Homo sapiens: one gene and its partner. The protein of the gene in region 1 interacts with the protein of each later gene in a pairwise test. Each region holds a gene or a part of one and is shown on either strand. Other genes may lie near its edges.

The links.
Region 2: the proteins of MRI1 (region 1) and ATF7IP interact in a two-hybrid assay, tested with the Homo sapiens proteins (one large-scale study listed by IntAct).

What each region holds. Positions count from the first base shown.
Region 1 is NC_000019.10:13,767,522-13,771,021, reverse strand, and holds part of MRI1 (methylthioribose-1-phosphate isomerase), read right to left. Parts: intron 2,664-3,500; coding exon of another isoform or gene 2,575-2,663; exon of another isoform or gene 2,462-2,574; coding exon 2,285-2,461; intron 2,199-2,284; coding exon 1,974-2,198; intron 1,445-1,973; coding exon of another isoform or gene 1,425-1,444; exon of another isoform or gene 1-1,424.
Region 2 is NC_000012.12:14,428,182-14,431,681, reverse strand, and holds part of ATF7IP (activating transcription factor 7-interacting protein 1), read right to left. Parts: intron 1-3,500. UniProt on the Homo sapiens protein: Recruiter that couples transcriptional factors to general transcription apparatus and thereby modulates transcription regulation and chromatin formation. Can both act as an activator or a repressor depending on the context.

The DNA of each region.
Region 1 (3,500 bases):
CTCCTGAGCTCAAGTGATCCTCCCACCTCAGCCTCCCAAAATACTGGGATTTCAGGTGTGAGCCATTTTACCTGGCCCCATAATGCTAATATTGGTTCATGCTAATATTTCATGAACTGTTTTTTCTTTTTTTTCTTTGAGATGGAGTTTCACTCTTGTTGCCCAGGCTGGAGTGCTGTGGCGCTATCTTGGCTCATTGCAACCTCCGCCTCCCGGGTTCAAGCAATTCTCCTGCCTCAGCCTCCTGAGTAGCTGGGGTTACAGGCATGTGCCACCACGCCCGGCTAATTTTGTATTTTTAGTAGAGGCAGGGTTTCTCCATGTTGGTCAGGCTGGTCTTGAACTCCCGACCTCAGGTGATCCGCCCGCCTCGGCTTCCCAAAGTGCTGGGATTACAGGCGTGAGCCACAGCGCTCGGCCTTTTTTTTTATTTTTGAGATGGAGTTTCGCTCTGTCACCCAGACTGGAGTGCAGTGGTGCAGTCTCAACTTACTGCAACCTCTGCGTCCTAGGTTCAAGCAATTCTCATGCCTCAGCTTCCCAAGTAGATGGGACTACAGGCATGTGCCACCACGCCTGGCTAATTTTTATATTTTTTTAGTAGAGACGTGGTTTCGCTCTGTTGGCTAGGCTGGTCTGGAACGCCTGACCTCAAGTGATCCGCCCACCTCCGCCTCCCAAAGTGTTGGGATTATAGGCGTGAGCCACGGCATCTGAGTGCATGAACTATTTAAAGGGCCAGTCATTGATCTAAATGTCCTGTGGGTTAATTCACTGACCGCCCTTGGGTTTATGCAGCAGGTTCTAGCCATAGCCCATTTTACAGATAGGACCAGTGAGGATCTTAGGGAATTAGAGAATTTAGGGAACTTGCTAACGGTTGCACAGCCAGGAAGTATAGGCAGCTAAGAAAAGTCTTGCAGCTAGGCATGGGAGCTCACACCTGTAATCTCAGTGCTTTGGGAGGCTGAGGCAGGAGGATCGCTTGAGGCCAGGAGTTTGAGACCAGCCTGGGGAACATAGCGAGACCCTATCTCTATGAAAATAAACAAATAAAAATAAGTGTAGAAATATCTTGCTTTTTCTTTTCTTTTTTTTTTTTGAGACAGAATCTCACTCTGTTGCCCAGGCTGGAGTGCAATGGTGTAATCTCAGCTCACCACAACCTCCGCCTCTCAGGTTCAAGTGATTCTCCTCCCTCAGCCTCCTGAGTAGTTGGGACTACAGGCGGGTGCCACCATGTCCGGCTAATTTTTGTATTTTTAGTAGAGACGGGGTTTCACTATGTTGACCAGGCTGGTCTCGAACTCCTGACCTTGTGATCTGCCCGCCTCGGCCTCCCAAAGTGCTGGGATTACAGGTGTGAGCCACCTCGCCTGGCCGTCTTGGTTTTTCTTTACAAACACGTGGCCAGCCAGATATTCTTATTTCCTCTTAAGAAAACCTAAGTGGAGAATAGCAAGACAGTTACTCAAGATCATTCATATAACCGGTTAGTTGTAAATTCCAACATTGGATCTGACCTCCAGGATGCACCTGTTAGAAGAAGTGGCTTGGGCCAGGCGTGCTGTGGCTCACACCTGTAATCCTAGCGCTTTGGGAGGCAGAGGCAGGCTGATTGCTTGAGGTCAGTAGTTAATAAATAGCCTGGTCCACATGTTGAAACCTCATCTCTACTAAAAATACAAAAATTAGCCAGGCGTGGTGGCACCCACCTATAGTCCCAGCTACTTGGGGGGCTGAGGCAGGAGAACTGCTTGAGCCCGGGAGGTGGAGGTTGCAGGGAGCCCAGATCGTGCCACTGCACTCTAGCCTGAGGGACAGAGCAAGACTCCATCTCAAAAAAAAGAAAAAAGAAAAAGTGGCTTGTAGGAGCTGTGTATGTTCCAGAAGGATGACAAGGACCTGCATATCACCTGCCTCCATGAAGTGCCCAGGAGCTGGGGTGTCCCCTTTCTGAGGGGGCAGCTTACCAGGTGCTGCAATCCGGACCCCATTAACATCGGTCAGCTCCTGGCCCGGTCGCTCTTCAATAATGATCTCCTTGCCGGTCTCCAGACGGAGGTCACATGAAGAGCTGGGGGCAGCCACGTAGAAGGGAATGCCATGGTGCTTGGCGACAATGGCCAGCTGGTAGGTGCCCACCTTGTTGGCTGTGTCGCCGTTGGCAACCACGCGGTCAGCTCCCACGACCACAGCTGGGGAGGGGGCGTATGAGAAGTTGGGGGTCATTACCTGGCCCCATGCTCCAGAGCCCCGCCCCCAGGGCTTACCGTCTGCTTACCTGACACGCCCCTATGGGCCATGGCAGCAGCCACCATGCTGTCGGTGATAAGGGTGGCGGGGATCTGCTCATAGACCAGCTCAAAGGCCGTCAGCCGGGCTCCCTGGTTGTAGGGCCGGGTCTCTGTGCAGAAGGCATGCTCCAGGCGGCCCAGGCTGTGCAGTGAGCGAATCACACCTGCGGGGGCCCCACCCACCAGGAGAAGGCCCCGGGGAGGGGCAAACAGACAGGGTGGTCCATTGGTTAGGGGTGCAGGCTCCTAGTCTGGGCGTGGATTGCCAAAGGCTTACCGAGCACAGTCCCGCCCAGGGGCCCTCGCAGTGGCAGTTCCCTCTGCCTGGTATGCTCTTCCCAATGCTCGCATAGCTCCGTTTCACGTCTGTTTAAAGGACACCTTCTCGGTGAAGCCTTCCCTGATATATCAGTTTTGCATAGCAATCCCCACACTTTCAGTTTCCTGCTCTCTGTCCTTAGCATTTATCACCTTCTAACACCTCATGTGTACAGGCAGCCCCCCTTTTCTATGGGTTCTCCATCCATGGACTCAACCATGTGGATTGAAAATATTTGGGCTGGGCGTGGTGGCTCACGCCTGTAATCCCAGCACTTTGGGAGGCCTAGGCAGATGGATCACGAGGTCAGGAGATCGAGACCATCCTGGCTAACACGGTGAAACCCCATCTCTACTAAAAGTTCAAAAAATTAGCCGGGCGTGGTGGCGGGCACCTGTAGTCCCAGCTACTCGAGAGGCGGAGGCAGGAGAATGGCGTGAACCTGGGAGGCGGAGCTTGCAGTGAGCCGAGACTGCGCCACTGCACTCCAGCCTGGGCAACAGTGCAAGACTCTGTCTCAAAAAAAAAAAAAAAAAAAAAAAAAGGAAAGAAAGAAAATACTTGAAAAGAATCGCTGGAACCCAGGAGGCAGAGGTTGCAAGGAGCCAAGGTCGTGCCATGGCACTCCAGCCTGGGTGACAGAGCAAGACTCTGTCTCCAAAATAAATAAATAAATAAAAAGCAATCCTCCCATCTCAGTCCCCTCCCGAATAGGTGGGACCACAGGTGCATACCACTACACCCAGCTAATTTTAGTATTTTTTGTAGAGATGGGGTTTTGCCATGAAGCCCAGGCTGGTTTTGAACCCCTGAGCTCAAGCGATCCGCCCACCTTGGCCTCCCGAAGTGCTGGCATTACAGGCTTAAAAATAGAGACAGGGTCT
Region 2 (3,500 bases), on another chromosome or scaffold:
TGGCTCACACCTATAATCCCAGCACTTTGGGAGGCCGAGGCGGGCGGATCACAAGGTCAGGAGATCGAGACCATCCTGGCTAACATGGTGAAACCCTGTCTCTACTAAAAATATAAAAAATTAGCTGTATGTAGTGGTACATGCCTGTAGTCCCAGCTACTCGGGAGGCTGAGACAGGAGAGTCGCTTGAACCCGGGAGGCGGAGCTTGCAGTGAGCCGATATCGCACCACTGCACTCCAGCCTGGGTGACAGAGCGAGACGCCATCTCAAAAAAAAAAAAAAGAATGTTTTTTTTAGAATCTGTCCTTACTTACAGATAAGTTTCTGTTATAATTCCTTTGATTTTCTTGAGGATAAGGCTATAGCCTTATCACAATTTGGCAAGTTTTCATAGTTCCATATTCTTTCCTTTCAAGCAGACTAGACAGTAAGCTCATTAAGGGCAGATACCAGATCTCATAATTTTGGTAATCCCAAACACTTTGAGAAATAGCTGAGACAAATTACATGTTTAATACTATCAGATGACTACTATCTTTAATAAGGTTCCATTAAGTAAAGGTAGAAAACTGTGTTTTTAAAGGATTACAAAATAGAATTTACATTAGGGGACTTAGTTTCCCATTTCAGAATTATACTTTATAGAACTTTATTCTAAGGAAAAATGGAGGACAAAAACCATTGCCTTAGATAAGAGATTGGCAAATCTTTTTTGTAAGCGGCCAAAAAATAGATATTTTCAATCTTGTGGGCCACATGACCTCTGTCTGACACAACCTCTTAATTCTGTCCTTGTTGCAGGAATCAGCAATAAGTGCTATGTGACATGTAAACAAATAAGTGCAATAAGTGCTATGTGACATGTAAACAAATTACCATAGCTATGTTTATGTAAATAAAACTTTATTTACAAAAACAGGGCTCACAGGCCAGTCTACCCCATTCACTGATTTAGATTACTGGCTCCATGAAAATATTTGTAACAAAACAAGAAATTCCTACAGACAAATTAAAGACAATATCCATTAGAAAAATGGGCAAAGGAGATGAACAGGCAATTCACAGATAAGGAACTATAAAAGGCCAATAAACATATAAAGATTCTCAACCTAACAAGATCTATCAGAAAAATAAGGCATGACTGGTAATGTGACTTTTCCAGACATTTTGTATTAGTTTTATTTAACCAATACAGAATGGCAAATAATATCTCCTATGTGAATTTTTGTGCTCTCTTTAAAAGCAAAACCTAGCGGGGAAAGTCCCATTGTATTATCTCCAATTCTTCCCCTCCCATTCTCTCTGAAACCCAAATCAGGTTTTCCACTCCACCATTCACCAAAACTGCCCCTTGGTAAAAGTCACCAATGATCTCCAGATTGTTAAATACTTCTCTTCCATCTTATGAGCACACACAGCAGCATTTGATATAGTAAACGGTTACCTTATTCCCTCCTCAAAACAGTGTTTTTACTTGGCTTCTGAAACACCAAAATCTCTGAAACACCAAAATCTCTCCATTTTCTTCCTACCTCAGGGGCTGCTCTTTCTCAGCTCCTTTGTTGGTTCTTCCTTATCTCCCCAACCCTAAACACTGAAATGCCAAAAGCACAATTCTTGGATCTTTTCTCCATGTATACTTACTCTGAGGTGATTTCATCTTGTCACCTAATAGCTACATGCTACCTACTATATTTTTCTAATACAAGTCAAGTCTCTGATCTGAAATCCAGACTTACACATCTAACTTGGACAACAGTACTCATTTGAAAAATGATCTTCCTCCTATACACCTCCTTCCAAAATCTACTTCATCTTTGGTCTTCCTCAACTCTGAAAAGAAAAATCTGCAACTTGCACACTAGTGAATAGAACTAAGAAGCTCCACAAAGAGAAGCCAAGTACATAAGTAACAGCTAAATATAAATGGATTGAGATGATAAAGAATTTTAACTGAACACAATAAACAGTGACAACAAATTAACAGTAAATTGACTAAATCATGCCAATTCTATCAATACTAACCTACAGCAAAAATAGAAGGAAGTCTCAAATTCTAGTCTAATGTAATTATCCTCATTAGCATCAGTTTATGTTTATTTTATTTACCTTAAAGATCCAATGAACAAGGGGAGGAAAATATCAACCACAGATTTTTATTTTAATCTGAAATAAAATCTGCAAGGAAACTATGTCAGTGTTTAATGCAAAAAAAATCTAGTTCACTCTAAAACAGATTTTTCTCTTCAAAAATCTTATGTTTAAGAAAAAAAAGCACGTGGAGGAGGCCTATCCCTATTTTTCCACAAGAAATAGAATGAGAAAGGCCAAAAAAGAAGGGAAGATGGAGAATGCAGTAACCCAACAGCTAAGGGGAGTCTCAAGAGGGAAGAACTGTTATTAAGAGGTCATCCAAGTATGGAAGAATAGATAAGACAAAGAAAAGATGTCCCCGGATTTAATAACATGATCATCAATGTCATTTCACTGAGAAAAATTAGGAGGGCGGCAGCTACCAAGGCAGAAATCAAAATCCAATTAAGTGGAAGGCCTAACAGAAGAAGAAATGGTCCTAGCTTTGTTAATATAACTTGAAGAATGGCACTAAAAGAAAGGAAAGAGATGAAATAGTAGTTAGAGGAAAGTATATGGTATGGCGATGAAGCTCCTCTAGTGTTTGAACTTTCCCAGAGAGATAAATCTTTATTTTGCTATCCTCTTTAAACAGATTATCATTTTAATAATTAGTGAGTATTAGTTATAACATAATACTATGTCACAATTCAGTAATGTCTCTAGACCTATTAAGGTATATATGCAACACTTTTTTAGTTCTTTCTTCTACTTTTGTAAAATTAAAATAGCTTTTCTATTTGCTTTATCTTTCATTATTTCTTGTTGCTGCTGATACACATCACAATTGCTTTATTTAAAACATATTTGCTCAACAAGTGCCTGAAATGACAGAAGGTTATGCTATTTTCCTTTTACTACACTCATAGATGTTAGTAGCTAGAAGGAAGAGCCAGTACTGAAGCCAACTTTAGTACTTCAGCTAATAATTCTGTGTTCTGAGTATATTAAAAATTAGTCAAGAATAAAGGCATTTATTTAAGTAACATTTCAACAGGAGTACAGCAACATAAATGACATGCAACAGATTCTGTCGCCATATAAAGAGAACAGAGTACAGTTTAAGAACCAATTAAGAAACTATTCTTAAACTCAAAATACACAAAATTACCTTCAGAGGAAGGGGAAAAGATACAAAATAAAAGTTTAGTTATGAGCCAAGAAATTAAATCTATCACTAAATTTACCCTGCTAATAGCATACCATCAGATTAAAGGCAAGTAACCAAAAATATTCCCAACTTTGAATTTTCAAAGTATGCAACATGGATGGCTTAATATTCATCTCTCAGCACTTAACTGCCTTGTGTGGGATGCCCTCCAATATCAAGATTCTGACATAAAGGTACTCATTAAATCATAAGCTG